2 separate regions of the Homo sapiens genome follow, and region 1 is linked to region 2. A link means that fine-mapping ties the variant in region 2 to the expression of a gene that starts in the linked region. Tissue or cell type: adrenal gland. Region 2 holds a variant in brackets; the other region holds the start of a gene. All regions are shown on one strand. Distances are from middle to middle.

Region 1 (10,240 bases), 81 kb before region 2:
TAAGCAGTAACTTAATGGGGTACATTTTAGAGAACTGAGCTAAGATCCTAAGCTAAGAGCTCGTTGAAGTCAGTTAGAGCAAGCAATGTCTCTTAGTCCCTGAGAAGCTACTGAAGCTCTGTAGCTTAGACTATTGGTAAACATCCTTTTCCATAAGCCATATTAAATTCATAAAGTGTTATGTTAATACAAATATTCTTGTGTATTCAGATCTATTATGCATGTTTGGGGGAGTTTTTATATCTTAGTAAAAGTCTACTTTTCATTCAGTTGATTTTATTTGATTACTGAAACTTCGATGTTTACTATTTCCTTCTTCTTTCTCACTATTATTACTACTTCAGATTACTAGGATTACTAGTTTGTATAAAACTATGTTCAAACAGGATAAAGTTGGCATGGATTCTGAGGCCTGAATGTCTTTCATTACACTGTCCAATCACATGTCTATTGTTTCTCAAAGCAGCCTTTGACAGAGTTCTAATTGATTTAAACTGTTTCCCCGGGCCTTTGATCATTCATTCTACTTCTATTATTTTACACTATGGATAAAAATTGTGGTTGTTTTTCTACATGACGGAAATATATTCTCAGGTGTCCAGACCAACATATCAAGTCCTTAAAAAAAGTAGGTCAGCATAAGCTTTATTTTGATTGAAATAAATTCATATAATCATTAACAACCACCAGACATATTGGGGAAGACATGGATTAATCAGTTGCCATATAGATAAATTACTATGCTAGTTGTTTACTAAAAACATTTTCAAGATTTCCTAATATGTACCTTTTACACTCACTGTACGGGAATGGAAGAACAACAAACACAAACTGTTTATTTTTCATGGATTTTTTTTTTTTTGAGTCGGAGCCTCGTTCTGTCCCCCAGGCTGGAGTGCAGTGGCCTGATCTCAGCTCACTGCAAGCTCCACCTCCCGGGTTCACGCCATTCTCCTGCCTCAGCCTCCAGAGTAGCTGGGACTACAGGCGCCCACCACCACGCCCGGCTAATTTTTTGTATTTTTAGTAGAGACGGGGTTTCACCGTGTTAGCCAGGATGATCTCTGTCAGGCCTCTGAGCCCAAGCTAAGCCATTATATCCCCTGTGACCTGCACATATACATCCACATGGCCTGAAGTAACTGAAGAATCACAAAAGTAGTGATACTTAAATGGCCTGTTCCTGCCTTAACTGATGACATTCCACCACAAAAGAAGTGAAAATGGCCGGTCCTTGCCTTAACTGATGACATTACCTTGTGAAATTCCATCTCCTGGCTCATCCTGGCTCAAAAAGCTCCACCACTGAGCACCTTGTGACCCCCACTGCTGCCCACCAGCGGGCAACCCCCCTTTTTCCTTTACCTACCCAAATCTTATAAAATAGCCCCACCCCTATTTCCCTTTGCTGACTCTCTTTTCCGACTCAGCCAGCCTGCACCCAGGTGAAATAAACAGCCTTGTTGCTCACACAAAGCCTGTTTGGTGGTCTCTTCACACAGACGCGAGTGAAAGTCTCGATCTCCTGACCTCGTGATCCGCCCGCCTCGGCCTCCCAAACTGCTGGGATTACAAGCGTGAAGCCACTGCACCCGGCCTTTTTTCATGGAATCTTAAAAATGTTTCTTAAAATCTCAAATTGGGTCCAGAAAATGTCCCCCAGTATTTTTTTTTTCTCCTTCCATTCTGAGTATGTTCTAACTCTTCATAACTCCACAGAAACAACCTTCACCTTTTGGAAAATGAGGGTGTTAAATATGTATGTCTAATTGCCGCTTTAATTTTCTTTCCTCATTCTGTTCTCCACCGTATTCCTTATACTCTGCCCTTACCAATGTATAGTATACCATCTTGTTTTCTGACATCCCATTGAATTCCAGGCTCAAGCAACAGACAGTCTACCTCTTGCTGACATTTATATGCTATGGTACTCTTTGTAACTTACCTAAACTCTCTTGGCTGTGATTTGTTCATTTGGAAAATAAGTTATGTTTAGATTATCTCCAAGAAACTTTTCATCTCATATTTTTATAATTTCCACACTGTCTAAACAATTTTAAAAGTTATAGGCAACATTAAATCCTGAAACTGGAAGAATCAATGTCATGTTTCCTTTAGATGCAAGCAAATGCTCATGTCCAGACAACATGTGGATTTCTCATGACCAACATGCCTTCCCGGGTCACTTATGTGTCTGAGTATTTTTCCTCCTCCACAATCATTTATCCTTAAGGAATGAGTTTATAGCCAAGGTATTAATTTTAAATACTGGGAAAAAAACAATTGTAGTTAAATGTCATTTATGAAACTATATAAATTGAGACAGAAATGGCTTTCAGATTGTTTATACTGTTCCTTATGCCATCAGCATGAATGTTGAGATCTGACCTGGCTCTATCCTTGATCCAAAATATCATGTGCAATCAACATAATTGTCCTCTGGTACAATATGTTCCTCTTGCATTGTGTTTACAAATCTGTTCTGCTCATGCTTGTCATCTGTGTTATAGGTCTTTATTAGCATTTTCAGATTTCAGTTATGTAATTTCCTTTACAATTTCTCTTAACTGTTGGTACACCACTTCCTTCTAACACGTCAGTTCATTTTCATTCTCTTACAGAATATTTTAAAATTTTAAAATAAATGTACATTTGATGTCCCTTTAAGAACAGGAGCACTGGAATAAGATTTGCAAAAGTTTTCAGACCCCTTGATTAAAAAGTGCCTTACAATTTACTCAGTCTCTTTGAATAAAACTTTGTGAAATACAAATATTTTACTTTTCTAGTTTTTCTCCAGAATTTTTGTTTCCTGTAAGTTTATTGGGGCACTCTCAAGTTCTCCAATAGATGTACAAAAAAAAAAAAAACAGCTTTATAATCAAAGCTGTTTATTGTGTATGCCAATATTGTCCCTGATACTTCACAAGTAGATTGGTCTATTTTAAGTGAGTAGCCGGAAACAGGAAAGCATTGAGGAAAGGCTGATAGAGATGTTTCTACTACAATTCTAACATTGTATACTTTATTATGATTACTATTATTATTATTTTAAAGTACTGTCTCATTGGGGAAAAAGCCGGAGAAAACATATGGTCAAAAGCATCTAGCACTTCTGTGATGATGCTCCTTGAACTTGTATTCTGATATGTTTAAACGAAAAACACTGCCACATTTGATTGTCATTGGACTCCAGCTTTCTGGGAGAAGTTGTTTGTCAACAGTACCTTACTTAACCTACTTTAATTTTCCAAGTTTTGTCTGCAATTTCAATCATTTAATAATTACTGCAGCAGCACTGTCTTTGAATACATAAAGGAATTTTGATTACATTAATGCTGCCAAATGACTACAATAAAAGGATTTCTCCAGCAGTCTTGCCTTTCTTTCGGTTTTACAGCTATTGGGCTGTCAGAAGGAAACGTATCAGTCCAAACTGTCTTTTGGAGCTTCAAGGTAGCTGCTCTCGAGGAGGCAGCGGAGGCGGCACCCAGGGCCCCCTGGCCGGGCTGCCTTCAGGTTGTTGCTTGTTGAGAGCACGTTCCCAGTTGACAGATTGATTCCCCTGTCTTACCTCTCAGTTGTTGCTGGTCAGCCACATCGCACTGGATGAACAGAGTCTTCTGAGGTTCAAACTGCTCATCCAGGGCAGCTTTACACTGTACACCTGCTTCAAGATTCCAATCCACCAGCGCTACCTATAGACAAGAGGAGAGGAATCGCGGGCCTGCGCAGCTCACGAAATAGACGGACAAACAATAAACACACAAGAGGCTCCCCTCCTGGACCTGAAATTTGGCAATTAGGTTTGGGTTCCCTCCCAGCCACTTCTGAGGTGTGCTCACAGCCTCAGCTTCAGCAAATTTTGGAAGTGGCAAAGTGGGCACGCCGGGCGCGGCCTCCCTGTCTCCGCCAGTGCACCTCGGGCGGCGGGGCGAGTCTCGGAGTGTGTGGGCAGAGAAATTTCCGCGGCTGGGCGCCGGGCTTACCTTGGCGCCCTTAAGCAGCAGCGCCTCTGCAAAGGCTCTGCCTATGCCCTGAGCCGCGCCGGTCACCAGCGCCACTTTGCCGTTCACGTGCATGGTGCAGCCACTGCTGGGGCGGGCGGTGGGCGAGCTCCGCGTCTCCGCGCGGCCGCGGCTTTTATGCCCCCCTGCGCGCGCGCGCGTGCAGCCCGGCGGGGCGCTCCCCTGCCAGTGGGCGGGGAGGAAACTGTCAAGCCAGCGCCCGCCGGGGAACCCACGACTGTGTCACCTGCCCCCTGAGCGTTCTGGAGCGCCAAGCTTCGCGATCTTTGCCTTCCGGACTCGCAGACCGGCTCAAAGCCTCCCCTCAGCCTCTGGCTCCGTGATTGGCAGGCAGCTGACAGAAGAAAAGTTAAAAGGTTATTTCTGAAGAAGAGTTTCCTTCAGTGCCCTAAAGACCAACTGGATAGAAGGAGAGCGGAGCAGAGGCTTGGAAGCTTGGATCCCTCCTCCTGCACTCCCTCCCGGCCCCGACTCCGGAACAAAACAAGCAAACAATAAAGCAAACTTGTTGCTCTTTTGTCTCAAAGTTTTGTGTGAGTTCCCATCTCGTAATCAGTGGGGTTGAGGGTGACGGGGAGCAGAAGTAACTAATATCATTGTGTTTTCTTAGTTACATTTTGGACAAATTTTTACGGATACTGGAGATGAGAAGTGGACTCTGCTCTGTCCTGAAAACCTGGAATCATAACATTTCATGGCTAGGACTAGAGTGTCCTTGGCGCTGTGTTTCTGGTCAGTGTCAATTGTGTGTCATATTGAGATGCCCCCACAAAAACTGTCATCATCAACAGGCGCTCCAGAGCCGCTGGTAGCCTACCAAATTGTTGGCTCAATGGAATGCTTACTTGTTGAAATACACCAACTTTGGAAGCTCTGAGTCAAGTTTGGGACAGAGGTTCCTTGCTCTCCAGGAACTCCAGGGCTAGCTGTATGCGGACTTGCATAAATAACAAGGGCTATTCCACTGACTTTGTCTCTTTTTCTCAGGTTGTCAGCGGCAGGCTGCAATTTTAATTCTGTAAACGTAAGTGGTTGGCTTTTTTTTTTTTTTTTTTTTTTTAATCTTGAGACAAGATCTCGCTCTGTCTGTTTGGCTAGAATGCAGTGGCATAATCCCAGCTCGCTGCAACCTCAATCTCCAGGGCTCAAGCGACCCTCCCACCTTGGACTCCCAAAGAGTGCTAAGATTACAGGCATGAGCCACTATGCCCAGCTGGCATTTATTTTCTTAAAGAAAAAAAAAATCTAAATACTTGGGGGAAATGGGAGTTGAGCAAAAGACTGACACTAACAGCAGAATGAATCATTTTTATATCTTCTTTACCTTCTTTACTGGGAAAGGTGGCTGGCTCAGCAGGGAAGGAGTGTATGAGGAGACTGTGTAAAATGTGTCTTGTCGCGTTGTTGGTAAGCCGCTAAGCAAATGTCTTTAACATTAATTTGAAATTAGGTCTTGACAAAATCTTGAGAAATTAAAACAGGAAAATAGATATTTGTACTCTAGGATGATAATTAAAATTGTAATATGAAGAGTAAATTGAGGGGTCATATTGAAAGGGAATAATAGTAGAAGACAAAAAGAAAACAAGGAACCAAACAAAACTTCAGCTCCTCTAATGGCATGCACAGAACATAGAAGTTTCTGATGAAGGAACTGGCAAAAAAGACAGAAAAGGAACTGCTGGGGTAAAATGGCAACATGCTGGGAGAACACAGGTTTGCAGCTCTTGTGGGAGAAATACTTTCAAGAAGAAAGAAGTAGTTAATAATGCAAAATACTCAGGTGAGCACCAGGGAATAAAGGATGGAGAAATATTTTGAATTTTTCAGGACAATATTTAGTGTGAGTAAATTTAGAAGGCACAAAAACTGAACAGCTGAAATGATCTGTGAGAAGATAGATATTGTCATGGACTGAAGACCAAGGTTACATGGAAAGAGAAATGGACTGGATAATAGTTGAAAAGATTAGACAGCAAACATGTTTTTCTTTTAAGAAAAGATAAGAAGATTGATTGAGGTCAAAGTGCAATGAGTCAAGGATAGTGACAACTGGAAGAACAGGAAGCAGTTTGGCGGTGGCGGATAGGTGAGGCACAAGGACGTCAGCACTGGATTCAGACAAACCGGGTTTGGATCTTGTGTCTGCTACTGACCAGCTGTGTAACCTTGGGCAATTTGCTTCAACTCTGGGTCTCAGATTCCTTATTATAAAGTAAGCTTTTCTAAAAAAAAAAAAAAAGGTGAAAATTAAAATAGGTGAAGCATATTAAACACTATTACAGAGCCTGCCACAAAGTATTAATACATTAATATTAGTCCCAACATATTACTTCTGAAATATTAATGAATAATAAATGTGAGATAGAGAAAAATGTGAAGAATAGGTTTTTTTAGTAGATAGCAAGGACTGAGGTCTAGAGAAAACTTAGTACCCCTTCATCCCTTTCCCTCCTCTCAATTTCCACTGCCACTGTCCAGATTCATATTTTCTCCTATGATAGCAAACAGCAGTTAGCTTCTCATTACCTCCAAATACGCCCCCCACTTTTTTTCGCATTGTGAGATGCTTTTATTACAGTGAATTAAACTGCTTACCAAACAGTGATCTTTGTAAGGAAGGATTTTTTCCCTTTTTAGTTGACATGGAATAACTGTGCATATTTATGTGATCTATATATACAGAGTGATATATATGTACGGAGTGATATATCAATACATGTATACAATGTATAGTGACAAAATCAGGATATTTGATTATTAGCATATTTATTAACTCAAATGTTTATCATTGCTTGTGTTGTGTACATTCAAAATCCTCTCTTCTGGCTTTTAGAACCTATACACTAAATTATTGTTAACCATATTCACCTTACATGTGTTCTAGAAAACACTAGAACTTATCCTCTAATCTAGCTGTTTCTTCGTATCCGTAAACCAGCCTCTCCCTATACACATCTCCCCTTACCCTTCCCAGCCTCTGATAACCACAATTCTACTCTCTACTTCTATAAGGTTTTTTTTTAGCTTTCACATATGACTAAGAACATGCAATATTTATCTTTCTGTACCTGACTTATTTCATTTAATTGCTCCACATTTCTTAAATCCAATTTACCTTCTGCACTTCTCCTAGGAAAATTTCTAAAACTGATCTGATCGTGTTTAGATATTCTCATGTTTAAAATCCTTAAAATATCTAAACTCCTGGGCATCACATCTGAGGTGTTCCATGCCCCATGTCTTTCTTGTGGCCCTTCTTTACATGCCAGGAAGCTGTGTGTCAGTCACAGGTTTAGCATCCCTGATCTAAAAATCTGAAATCCTAATTGCTCCAAAATCTGAGCCTTCCTGGACTGTGATGTAAGCAAGATATAAACTTCTTATCTGTTGAGCCTTTGCATGTTTGTTTCTATTTTCTATCACAGCCTAACCTAATATATCTCCCAATAGAAAAAATCCTCCCAAATGTCCCTGATGACTAAATCATGTAGAACACGGGGCAAATTAAATCTTTTTGGTAGATAGCCATCAGGGCAACCAAATTGGCTAACCTACTAGATCATTTATTGCCATAAAGTCTCCAAATAGACATAAATTACTTACTTATCTAGCAAAACAAAGATAGTGTCATTATACACTGCCTCCCTGGCCCCCACTCCTAAGCAATAATCTTTTTTAAATGAAAGTTTTTGTTAAAAAGTGCTCCAACAATCTGAAACATGACAAGTGGAAAATTCCACATGTAAGTACTAGATACAAACTTGGTTTCATGTACAAAATTATTAAAATGCAAAAGATTATTTTCAGGCTATATGTATAATATGTATGTGAAACAAATAAATTTTATGGTTAGACTTAGGTCTCAGCCCCAAGGTATCTCATTATGTACATGCAAATACAAAATCCCCCCAAAATTCTGAAATCTGAAATACTTCTAGTCCTAAGCATTTTGGATAAGGGACACTCACCTGTATAGCCTATAAATAAGAATGTTCTTACAAAATTATATGGATGATGGTTTATCTCAAATTTAACTTTGTTTTAGCTAAGAATTATGTTTTTAATAACACAAATCACTGTGATGACAGAAATATATAGCTGATGTAATGTCCTGAACATAGAAGCTGAGAAATGCATATAAAAATCAGAGGAGTGGGGAGATGTTGACTGGGTAAGCAGCCCTTTTTTGGTTTTATAATATACCACATATAATGTTCTATAGATATTTTAAATTCAAAATAGACTTTTAATATAAAATATGGGAACATTCTTCTCCAAAAACCCATTATCAATATATTTCTGTTATATAAAAAGATAATCACAACATATGGGAAATCTCACCATCCTATTAAAATTTTCCATCTTCTCTTGAACACATATCTCATATTTATATATACTTTTCTTTGGTCAGCGTGTATTGCGCGTGTACTTTGGGTGGCCCTGTGCTGCGTCAGCTGGAAGGGATCCAGAGAAAAAGACAGAGCCCTCTTTGAAGACATCCAGAGAGAGTAAGCTCCTTATGATCCTGTGATTGGTATTTCCATGGTAGAGATCTGATAGCTGCATAGGAAAACAGTTGAAGAAAGTGGGAGGGCAAAGATACTCAAGAGGAGCGGGTATCAAACGGCAAAGGCCTGAGGGCATGGAGAGTGGCTATGTTTTAACTGACACATGGCTTCCTAGCATGTAGAGAGCTGTATTTGATTTAGTTTTGCAAACGAAGTTCTCTTAAAAACAAATGCAGCGCAATGATGCAAAGTTAAGAGAGGTGATTATTCCTTTAATGCAATTACAAGTGTTGAGTGTTGAACATTTACTCAGAAGCAGCCATCTCTTACTGTCTACACATACAGCCTCTGGAATCAGACCGCTTGGGTTTTAATCCAGCTCTACCATCTACTAGCTCTGTGACTTTTGGATAGTTACTTAATTTATCTGAATCTCAGCTTCCTCATCAGTAAAATGAGGATAATAGCAGCACCTATTTCATAAAGTTGTTGTGAAGACTATACTAAGTTAGATACAAGTCAAGTGCTTAGACCAGTGACCGGCACATAGCAAATGTTATATAAATGCTATTATCATTAAGCACTATACATATATAATTGCGTTTATTATTTACAACCAAGCTGTGAGGTAGTTATTATTGTGGTAATTTTATAGATGAGCAAAACACGTTTAAGGAGTTTGGGGAATCTGGTCAAGGTCACTTATCTAGAAAATGAAGGAGGAGGCTTTGACACAAGGTGTGGCTGACTACTGAGTATTACTTCTTTTTTGAAAATTAAACTCTTAATTTTGAGATAACTGTAGCTGAGCAGTACTTTTAGCCCTGTCTGAATGGCGATTTATTTAAGAAATACAAGTTGAATATAGACTGAAATCAGCACTCTTTGAGCAAATATATATTTTCCCATACCCTAGTGTCTGTCAGCTCAGTTCTGACCTGTTAGGCCAGGCTAGTCTTAAATTGATTTTTCCTTTATCCCATGCACACTGGTGAGCACAGACATTCCAAGAAGCACTCAATCACAGGCCCAGGCTCAGAGGCAGGCCAGTCACTCACCTGATAGACATGTTTACTGAATTTTAAAATAATGACATATCAATCAATACAAAAATAAGCTTTTTCTTTATTGAAACAAACAAACAAAAACCACTGCTGGCATAAGACAGTTACTGCTAGTACTGGGGTCTGGGGCTTGTTTTGACTTTGCTACCACAAGCTACAATAGAGGAGCTGACTTTTTAAATAGCTACTATGTTTTTGTTCCTTTGTAAGTTATTTCATTTAGTTTTCTTGCTAACCCTGCAAGGTAAGTAGTAGTATCCTCATTTTACAGTTGAAGAAAATGAGCCTCATGGAAGACAAGGGACTGATACCAGAACTTAGCAACAAACTTGGGTACACATCCAAGTCACATGGCTCCAAAGCCTTTGCTTTGTCTACTCCACTGAATTCTCTTAGATCTACATTCAAATGCTGTCTCATCCCCTTTGCTAATTGTATGATCTTTGGGTGATTACGTAACCTCTCTGATCCTGTTTCCTGAGCTGTTAAAAGGGGAACAAAATGACATTCCTTGAAGCACCCAGTACAATGCCTGGCACAAATTTGGTGATCAATGAAATATTCTTATTAAGTTTCTTCCTTAATATTCATATTTATTTCTGGATTAAGAGATACTTAGTTGAAAATGGAGAAAGAA
Region 2 (10,776 bases):
GTGTGAAGTGATATCTCATAATAGTTTTAATTTGCATTTCCCTTTGATTGGTATGAGCACCTTTTCATAGACCTGTTGGACATTTTTGTATCTTTGGAGAAATGTCTGTTCAGGTACTTTGTCCATTTTTTTTTTTTTTTTTTTTTAGCAGAATCTTGTTCTGCCACCCAGGCTGGAGTGCAGTGGCATGATCTCAGCTCACTGCAACCTCCACCTCCCAGGTTCAAGAGATTCTCCTGCCTCAGCCTCCCGAGTAGCTGGGACTACGGTTATGTGCCACCACGCCCAGCTAATTTTTGTATTTTTAATACAGACGGGGTTTCACGGTGTTAGCCAGGATGGTCTTGATATCCTGACCTCGTGATCTGCCTGCCTCGGCCTCCCAAAGTGCTATGATTACAGGCATGAGCCACAGCACCTGGCCTTCTTTGCCCATTTATAAATCGGGTTTTTTTGTTTTTCTACTATTGAGTTGTAAGAGTTCTTTATAAATTTTGGATGCTAGGCCCTTGTCAGATATGTGGTTTATAAAAACTTTCCCAGTCCAGGCCAGGCACGGTGGCTCACGCCTGTAATCCCAGCACTTTTGGAGGCCGAGGCGGGCAGATCACCTGAGGTCAGGAGTTCGAGACCAGCCTCAACATGGAGAAACCCCATCTCTACTAAAAGTACAAAATTAGCTGGGCGTGGTGGTGCATGCCTGTAATCCCAGCTACTCGGGAGGCTGAGGCAGGAGAATTGCTTGAACCTGTGAGGCGGATGTTGTGGCGAGCCAAGATGGCGCCATTGCACTCCAGCCTGGGAAACAAGAGCAAAACTCCCTCTCAAAAAAAATACAAAGTAAAAATAAATAAATAAAAAAAACTTTCCCAGTCCATACGTTGTCTTTCAGATTCTCTTTAAATTATTTCTTATGAGGAAACAAAAATAGTCAATTTATAGTAATCAGGGCAAAGTTATCTTTTAAAAATACATGAACATGATTAGCTACTTTAAAACAAGTTACAACTTTAGACTTTGGCTTTTTCATAATGTAATGCCAGGTTCTCATGAAATGATAATATGATAGGACTGTTCAAACTAGGATACTGGCTTCATTCTTTCCTTTTTAAATTAACTCAGGCAGTGTATCTAAAACTAAATGCCGTGGGCCCTTGTTTTGGGGGCTTTCTTAGTTTTCTCTGCCAATTACGGTTTGTGTTTTTACTATGCAACATTGTTCAACAGGAACAAGTTTAAAACATTTAGTATCCAACAAGTGCTAACCAAACAAAAGTGAATAATGGAATTCTAGGCTTTGTCCCAGCTCCTCCCATTCTCTCCTCAAGGATGACAAATGCTTAAGTAATAAGAATCAATTTTGTGAGTAATTTTTGAGTTCCATCTGATTACTGTTAATAGTCACAACTTGAAAGCATGAGAATACATTTGAAGGCAAAAACTTTTGCTACAGCAAGTTTGGTGGTCTATGCTAACATTCCTTTAACTATTTCCACCAGCTTTACCATAATCATATGATAGAATGCATGCTAACACAAGAGCTTGCTGCATATAAAACATGCTTGAGACTAGGCCAAATACATAATCCAAGCATTTCTATTCTATGGAAGATTTCTTTTCCTTTAAGTTTTTGTTATTTTTTGTGTTTTATAGTCACCATAGAAATTGTAGTATACACAAATTATATACTATAATACTTATTGCAGTCTCCACCTATTTCTTTAAGGGGAGAAACTCCCCAAACATAAAAGCCTGCAGTTTTGTGAGTTTTGACAAACGTGTACACATATGAAACCACGATCCCATCAGAATAGGATGTGATTATCTCTGGAAAATGCCCTCATACTCTCTTCTCCGATAATTACCACCCCTTCTCCCAACCTTTAGAGACAGCCAATGTTATGATTTTTTCCCAAACCACAGATTTGCTTATAATAGAACTGTTTATATTAATGGACTTACAGAGTATGTACTCTTTTGTGCCTGGCTTTTGCTACAGATAATGTCTGAGAGATTCTTCTATGTCCTTGAATGTAATGGTAGGTTCTTTTTTCTTTTATTTTTTTTCCCGAGAATTTTTCCATTGAATGAATACACCAAAATTTGTTTATGCCTTGTCGTGCTGATGGACATTTTGGTTGTCTATAGTTTTCAGCTATTATAAATAAAGCTGCTATGGACATTTTTGTACAAGGTATTGTTCTCTTGGCTAAATTAGTTCTCTTGGCTAAATTAGTAGGGATGCAATTGCTCGACCATATTGTAAGTATATATTTAATCTATAAGAAACTGCCAAACCTTTCCCCAAGTTTGTTGTACCATTTTACATTCCAACCAGCAACATATGAGTTTTCCAGTTGCTCCCCAACCTAATATACTGTCAGGTATTTAATTTTAGCAATTCTCATCCATGTATTGTAGCATTTCATTGTGGCTTTCATTTGCATTTCCCTGATAATTAATGAGGCTGAATAATTTTAAACGGTGCCTTTTAGCCATTCATACAGCCTTTTGAAATAATTTTTCAAATCATTTTAAAATTCAAATTTTAAAATTTGCATGTTCATTTTAATAGAGTCTTTTGATGAGCAGAAGTTTTAAATTTTGATGAAGTCCATTAATTCTTTTCTTTTATGGTTATTGCACTCTATGTCATTCTTGAGAAATCTTTGTCTAACCTCAGGTCAGGGAGATATTATCCTATGATTTCTTCCAAAAGATTTCTAGTTTTAGACTTTGTGTTTGGTTTTATGATCCACCTTGAATTAATTTCTGTGCATGGTACGAAGAAGGAGTTAAAGTTCATTTTTTTTCTCTCCTGGCATATACCCCATTGTTTAAACACTATTTGTTGATAAGAATATCCTTGGATTTCAGGATAGCTAAAGACAATGGTAGTTGCTTAGGTTCCTGTCTCCCAACTTTTCCCCCCAAAATAACACAGAAAAACAAGAAGGTAAGAAAAGCAAAAACAAAATAAACCTATCCCAAAACAATGACCTCAGCATTATGTAAAGACAGAGAATGCTCATATCTCAAAATAACTTGAAATTTTAAGAATAAAATTGTAAATGTCCAGTAAGCAATCTCTTGCTGTCCTATCCTACTGTAAGTCTTTGTGGCAAGAAAAAACAGGTCATGAAAAACTATGGGAAGAGAGGAGAGAGAAAATGATGGCCATAAGATTGACCTTACCAACTTCCAAAAGTAAGTCTGCAGGAGAAAAGACCAGAGCATGGTTTGCAGGGAAGGGACTTAACAGCATGTATGATGTGAAGTGACAGTTTTTGAAACCTATAGCCTCTGTAGGAGAAAAAATCAAAACAGAAAGAAGTGACCCTTAGAAATTAGATGGTCAAAAAGAATGTAGCAAAGGGATAAATTTTTGAGTAGTTCATGTATTACAAAAGACAAACAAAATACGAGGAAACAAACAATCCCTTTTCCTCCACTGCAGAAATAACCCACTAAGGAATCTGGACTTTGTTATACTGAATGAAGGTAGTGCCACCGAAGCAGGAATCTTGTAAAGTTCCTCAGTACTACAAACATATGAAACTGCCCCAATAGTCCCATAGACTGTTCTTTTGGATAAACATAGAAATTAACCTTTCCGATCTTAAAGCTTCAAGCTTACATTTGTTTTCTTTGAGGAAAGGACCTTCTGGCCTCTTTAAAAAAGCATCAAAAAACCGAATCTCACCAGATCACCACATCCTCACAATGAGATGACAGGCCCCTCATTCATTATGATTGCTTCCTAGCCCTTTCCTAGTTCTTGAACATTGTTATATTTCTTTCTTGCTATATAAACTCCTAGTTTTAGTCAGTCAGGGAGATGGATCTGAGACTGAGCTCCCATCTCCTGTAGCACCTAATTAAAGCCTTCTTCCTTGGCAATATCTGTCATCTCAGTGATTCGCTTTCTGTGCAGTGAGCAGCAGGACCTAGATCAAACCCTGTGTGTTTTGGTAAAAAATGAAATAAATAATACAGAGTTATGAAAAATTACAAAATGAACTCTGATATGCCTCAACTAGGGAAAAATCCTTCCCTCAAAAACAGAATTCATGAGCCAGAAGAGATGATAATCCCTCAGAGTGATAATTTGTTGTACAGTTTGTGGACTTAAAGGAATTTACTGTTTAGCACATTTTAAGTTTTAATTTTTTTTTTTTTTTTTTTTTTTTAAGAAATAGTGTCTCACTGTGTCACTCAGGCTGGAGTGCCATGGCACCGTCATTGCTCAATGCAGTCTCAAACTCTTGCGCTCAAGCAGTTCTCCCACTTTGACCTCCTGAGTAGCTGGGGCCACAGGCACGCACCATCATGACTGGCTAGTTATTTATTTATGTATTTGTTTTGTAGAGATGGGGGTCTCACTATGTTGCCCAGGCTGGTTGAACTCCTGGGCTCAAGCAATCCCCCTGCTTCAGCTTCCCAAAGTTCTGGAATAAAGGCATGAGCCACCAAACCTGGCCTATTTAGCATGTCTTAATATTGTCCTTAGTATTTAATCTTTTAAGGACTCTTTGCATATCTTAACCTCTAATATTCCATTCACTATTGTCTCAAGTTAATACAATACCTGTTCCATTCTATTTTCTAGGACGATAATGAGGTTTGATGATTTTGGACTTCAAAGAAAGGGGAGAAGAACATATGTATTGTGACTTGGTACAAAATGCCAAATACCTTCTAACAGTAATGTCAATTTTCCCCTGAAAATTTGGTCAAAAGATTGAATGAGTGGCCAGAAAAGACTCTAATACTGGAATTAGAATTCCAGGACTATAAAGAGGAAGTCTCACATAGGTTAGGATATCACAATTTTACATAAAATAAACTGGGCAGATTTTCACCTCAGAGAACTTTGAAAATTATGCTAATGCTAAAATTTGAAAGCTATTTATACATTAAGGGGAAGATACAAATCTAGGCTGTAAAGGATTAACTACTGTAGATGCATATCGGAATTACAACACTGTTAGTTCCAAAGGGAAACCAAAGAAGTTTTTATACGGTGTGGGAGTACATGAATGTTTACTAAGAATTTGTCAGCATTATATAATACTGACTAAATGATAGCCTCCTTCCTGTATTTGGAGGACACAGATGTTCAAATCACTAAGCAATGTGC[T/C]CTTCAAGGTGGATGGGCTACTTAACTCAGGCTGTCAGGTTGCCTAAGTAACCATTACGTAAGAACACTTATCTTCCTGTGCTGATTCAACATACGTTAAACAACTGAGACTAAAAACCTACTAGGATGTGAACACTTGAAGGTTGGGTTTCTCTTATTTACTATTATATTAATGCCAGGACAGTGTCTAGAAACTAGTAGACACACAAAAAATTAGTTCATGAAACAAAGAAGGCTTATATACAGCTGCTATACTTTTTATCTTGTATTCCAATACTTGGCAAATACTAGCAGTTGAATTAATGTTTATTGAATTGAATTCCTAACTTGCATTCCTTGAAATAGTAGGCTAGGAACTATAAAATAAAAATAGACATGTACCAGCTGGGCGCAGTGGCTCACGCCTGTAATCCCAGCACTTTGGGAGGCTGAGGAGGGCGGATCATGAGGTCAAGACATGGAGACCATCCTGGCCAACATGGTGAAACCCCGTCTCTATTAAAAATACAAAAATTAGCCGGGCATGGTGGTGCGCACCTGTAGTCCCAGCTACTCAGGAGGCTGAGGCAGGAGAATTGCTTGAATCCAGGAGGCGGAGGTTGCAGTGAGCCGAGATTGCGCCACTGCACTCCAGCCTGCCAATAGAGCAAGACTCCATCTCAAAAAAAAAAAAAAAAAGAAGACATGTACCATAAAGTGTTAGAAGTCGCTGATAGAAAACTACATGTTTTTTTGTGGGAATCCAAAGATATGACTTTAAATATTCATCTGAACTCACTTATTCTACTGGTGGTTTTCAGTAACTATTGAATTTAATTTTTGATATTAAAGGCATACTTATTGGTATTCCTGAAACTATTTTGATATTTCCCAGCCCACAATTGTATATCTAGTAAAATTAATATTTTAAAATCTGATCTGCTCATATTATTTTAATGTAAAAAGGATTGTTGATTTTGAGCAATCTTTTCCACTCTTGTGGCTTTATAGGCCAGATGGTGTATAAAGCTTGTTATTCTATAAGCTTAGTGTTCTTCAAATATATATCTTTAATTTACACTTCTCTCAAGCTCCAGACTCTTAAGTCCTACAGAAAAATCGACATATTAACTTTCTTTCTTCAGAAAACATATCATATGTGCCCTGTGTGGAATCGGCTATCCTCCTTTAACTTTCTCTTCAGGGCCTAGTGTCTCTGCTCATTCAGAGCTTCAACAGCCAGTTTCCCAAAGCTAGTACTTTTCAGTGACTTTTCAGTGTTTCCATCTTACTCTCCACTGGGCCTACAGTAAAATATATGAATAAAAAGTAATGTGGTACTGAGAAAGTGAGACGGCCCAGGGGTTAGTGCAGGCTTTGCCAGTCACTGCCACTGTAGCCTAGTGCGTGCCCACAGTCTCACTGCTCCCCTCTTTAATTATGCTAAAAGTCAGATGTGCCAGTGGATAATTGCTAGGATTCTGTGAAAGGAAAATAAATCTTGGGGCCCCCAAATCACTAAGCTAAAGGGGAAAGTCAAGCTGGGAACTGCTTAGGGCAAACCTGCCTCCCATTCTATTCAAGTTATCCCTCTGCTCACTGAGATAAATGCATATCTGATTGCCTCCTTTTTAAAGGCTAATCAGAAACTCAAAAGAATTCAGCTGTTTGTCTCTCACCTACCTATGAATGGAAGCCCCTTCTCTGCTTGAGTTGTCCCACCTTTCCAGATGGAACCAATGTACATCTTACATATGTTGATTGATGTCTCATGTCTCCCTAAAATGTATAAAACCAAGCTGTGCCCTGACCACCTTGGGCACAAGTCATCAGGACCTCCTGAGTCTGTGTCATGGGCATGCATCCTCAACCTTGGCAAAATAAACTTTCTAAATTAACTGAGACCTGTCTCAGATATTTGCAGTTCACATTTTGGTAACCACGAAGGGATTCTGAGTGAAGGTGCCCCTGACCTTTGACAAATCTCCTATTGGTGCTTGGTACCAGCTTGAGCTATCTTTGTGGGTCTAACCAATAGGACAATTTGCTGAGGCCTGGAAGTGCTCCCTCCAGAGCATCCCTGATCTTCCAATATTTGGTCAAGATCTAAAGTTTATTGCTGTACAACTCTTTTTTTTTTTTCTTGGAGTTTTACTTGTTTCCAAAACAAGGAAGGCAAGTTTTTCCTGCTTCCATGACAATGGAAGGCAGGTAACTCCTGTATGGAGTTTGAACTCACTTCCAAGAGGAAAGACAAATTTGAGATTTTCCTGCTTCTAGGATGGTAGAGAGCAGTCTTAAGTCTGAGACCTATCCCTGGGTGAGTAACTGAATTGGTGTTTGTCTTGGCTAAAGTTAAGATTTTAGCCAAGACAAACCAGCTGATCTTAATTTCACCTTACCATTAACACACTCCGTAATCTTACAAGTTGCGCCATTGTTTGTTTTGCTTAATTTTTGTTGTTGTTGTTTGCTTGTTTCTGTTTTTGTTGTTATTTCCATATTTTCTCCATTGGGTTTGATCAACTCTGACTTGATCAAATACAAAGGAAAGTTCCAAATTATGAGGAACAAGGCCTCTGAAGTGGCTAAATTCCCATAAGAAAACAATGACAACAACAAGGTGGTGTGGTCGGGGGCGGGGGGAGAAAAACATACAGCAAAAGGAAAACAGAAAGGAGAGATTCTGCTTTTGATTACTCGAGGGGCTTTATTTACATAGCAATACCACCTTTTTGCTAGCCAGGCCAAACTGAAAGAGCAATGGCTGTTGCCCCATGCTGCAGTTCCATAGCTAAGAGTTCTGCCTTCTATTTTTCCACCATGACAGCCTGGGTTTGGTGCCTAAATCAAGCCCTTTCTGTTTGGATACTTGGCACTTCTGAAACAGCAGCAATTTGTCCGAGCTGAAATATGGTAAATAGATTAAAACATTTTTTTTGAAGGAGCTCAGTGGTTAAAAGTCAGCTTAATTAAAAACTAACATCCAAAATGTGTGTGCGTATGTCTGCATGTGTGTGTTTTTGTATTTAAAAGGCCTTCACCTTTTTTATTTTGTGTGCGTGTGTGTTTTGTTTTTTTTTTTTTCTCTTAGGACTTTGTCTTTTTCATCTCATTTGACTGAATTATGTTTCCTTCATTTACTTCTGCTGTCTCTCCTTTCTCTTGCACCCTGTGCTGCATGAGGGACCTAAAATAGTTTATAATAGCCTGGGGTTCCTTAAGGAAAATGGAGAAGGTGCCAGACTCTCTTTTGGGGAAAAACCACTGTTTTTACTTATGGAACTCCAAGAGTGTTTTCCAAACAGACAAGTTCATCTCAGCTCTTAAACTGCTTGCTTTTGTATTATGTTACCGGATTTTTTGACTAAAATAATTATTGCAATAGAGGTTACTCTTGGGTTTTTAAGGAAGTAAAGTTTAGATACTTGTGTTACCTGATTTTTTGACTAAAATAGTTATTGCAACATAGGCTATACTTGGGTTTTTAAGAAAGTGAAGTTTAAACAAATGTTTTTGTTTAAAAAAATTTTTTTAAAGTGCACTGTAAAAGCATCACGAGGTCTAGCTTCATAATAATTCTCCCTTTTTAGAGATCCAGGATTCAGTGTGGACTCTGCCCAGAGTTCAGAGATCCAGTTAGAAGATAGATAGTCCCTATCTAAATAAAATTGTTCTCCTCATGCAATCCTGTGATAGATTTCTACAATTTTATGTTTGATTTAGCATCTATCTTTAATCTCCCTGTAGCATCACCAGACCTTTTTTCTCTGTACCTTGAGATGTAAATTTTGCTAATCTGATTTTTAATCTAAGAGTTGTTTCCTTCAATATGCAAATTTAGGGCTGTTTACCTGACAACTGCCAGGATAATGAATCAGTTTATCAAGAGTTTGCAAGTCTAAGATACGGAAAAAAAAAGGAGGTCGTAGGAATTCATAAAGTGTATTTTTATCATTATGCCTAACACATCTATGTATTTGTGTGTTCTCTACACAATATTTCACTACTAAAATATATAAAAGAGCTCTTATTAATTGGCTTCAAGAAAAATAAAAGTCCTTAAATCAAATACTTCATCGGAGAAAAAGGAAAGACTAGTCAAATGCTTTTTCAATTTTATGTGACTTAAGTAAAATCTTTAATAAATAAGGTAGCTTAAAATTATTAGTAAAGTAGTATTAGAAATGTCTTAAAAATTATTATCAAGCAATTGCATACTTATCCCTGCCAAATACTATAAGGTGTCAAAATTTGGCATAGGGTTTATAAAACTATAAACACAGCCCAAAATGGAATGATCTTTCTTGTGTAATTTTTAATAGATAAGATATTGATATTGGTTTAATGAAAATAGCTACATCTCAAATTATTTAATAAAATTACCACAACCCATAATCTTCTGGCTTTAGGCAGTCCAGACCACAGGCAATAAGGAGGTTTGTTTGTAAGAGGACTGTTACCATCTTTTTTCAAAGCTAAACTATAAACTAAGTTCCTTCCAAAGTTAGTTCAGCCTATGCCCAAGAATGAACAAGGACAGCTTGGAGGTTAGCAGCAAGATGGAGTCAGTGAGGTCATATCTTTTTTAATGTCTCAGTTATAATTTTGCAATGGGGAGTTTCATAACTTTAAATGATGCCTATCACAGTTTTCATAATCTTGGTAAATGATTAAAATAAAATAATTAGGTAAATGTAATGGGATAAACACTTGTAAACAAACTTGTCATAATTTAGAATCAAAATTTATATTAAATTAAATAATATATATTTCATTATTTGGGTATTTTCCAATAAAAATATATTGTAGGAAAACATTCTGTCTAAAAAACAAACAAACAAACAAAACCCAAAAAAAGTTAATATGATCAAGTTGTCTATAATTAAAGGGATTTATAGTGGTCTTTCTAGAGATTAAATTTGATGATAAAAACACTTATACACAAAAGAATTGATTAGAACAATAAAATTTTCTTAAAGGATTGATTTACTCTTAATGAATTATAAGAGATTTTAATTTGTTTTAAACCCAAAGTTCAACTTGTATTGTTTCTTGATGTTTTCTGTTTTCTCTTCTCTTTTAGAAAGTGCGAAATAGTAATGCTCTTCTTCAACTTATTTTCAGATCATAAAAGTTTTTATTCCTTCAAGTTCTATTCGCTGTGGGCTGATGCTAGCAACGTTTTCTTTCTCTTTTTTTTTTTTTTTTTTGAGACTGTGTCTTGCTCTGTAGCCCAGGCTGGATGGAGTGCAGTGGTGAGATCTAGATTCACTGAAATCTCCACCTCCCAGATTCAAGCAATTCTACTGCCTCAGCCTCCTGAGTAGCAGGGATTACAGGCATTTTCCACCACGCCCAGCTAATTTTTGTATTTTTAGTAGAGACAGGGTTTTGTCATATTGACATGCCTGGTTTCAAACTCTTACCTTAGATGATCTGCCCGCCTCTGTCTCCTAAAGTGCTGGGATTACAGGCATCAGCCACTATGCCTGGCCTAACAATGTTTTGTTAAAGGCCTAAAGGAAACGTTTTCTTTCAACATAATATTCTGTGCACTGCAGGTCTTTTCCTCTGTCTTTTGATAACTGGCCTAATAGATTTTATGTTTAATCAAAGTAATTCCTATGCCATTATTATTAAGTTTTGGTTTGCCT

The links. PIP is the estimated chance that this variant, and not a neighbour inherited with it, causes the effect.
Region 1: it holds the start of HPGD, and the variant in region 2 is fine-mapped to the expression of HPGD in adrenal gland (GTEx, PIP 0.98).

The regions. Positions count from the first base shown.
Region 1 is chr4:174,518,370-174,528,609 of GRCh38, forward strand. HPGD (15-hydroxyprostaglandin dehydrogenase) reads right to left here and starts at 4,119. Exons shown (of 7, transcript NM_000860.6): 1 at 3,990-4,119; 2 at 3,575-3,698. The coding sequence starts at 4,082. It overlaps LOC105377548 (a long non-coding RNA gene), which reads left to right and starts at 4,244. Exons shown (of 7, transcript XR_007058492.1): 1 at 4,244-4,760; 2 at 5,016-5,052; 3 at 8,443-8,539. RefSeq lists an enhancer at 929-1,458.
Region 2 is chr4:174,599,245-174,610,020 of GRCh38, forward strand. No RefSeq gene overlaps it. Among named protein-coding and RNA genes, the nearest start is that of HPGD, 82 kb to the left of the region's middle. The variant T/C (reference allele first, on the strand shown) is at 5,141.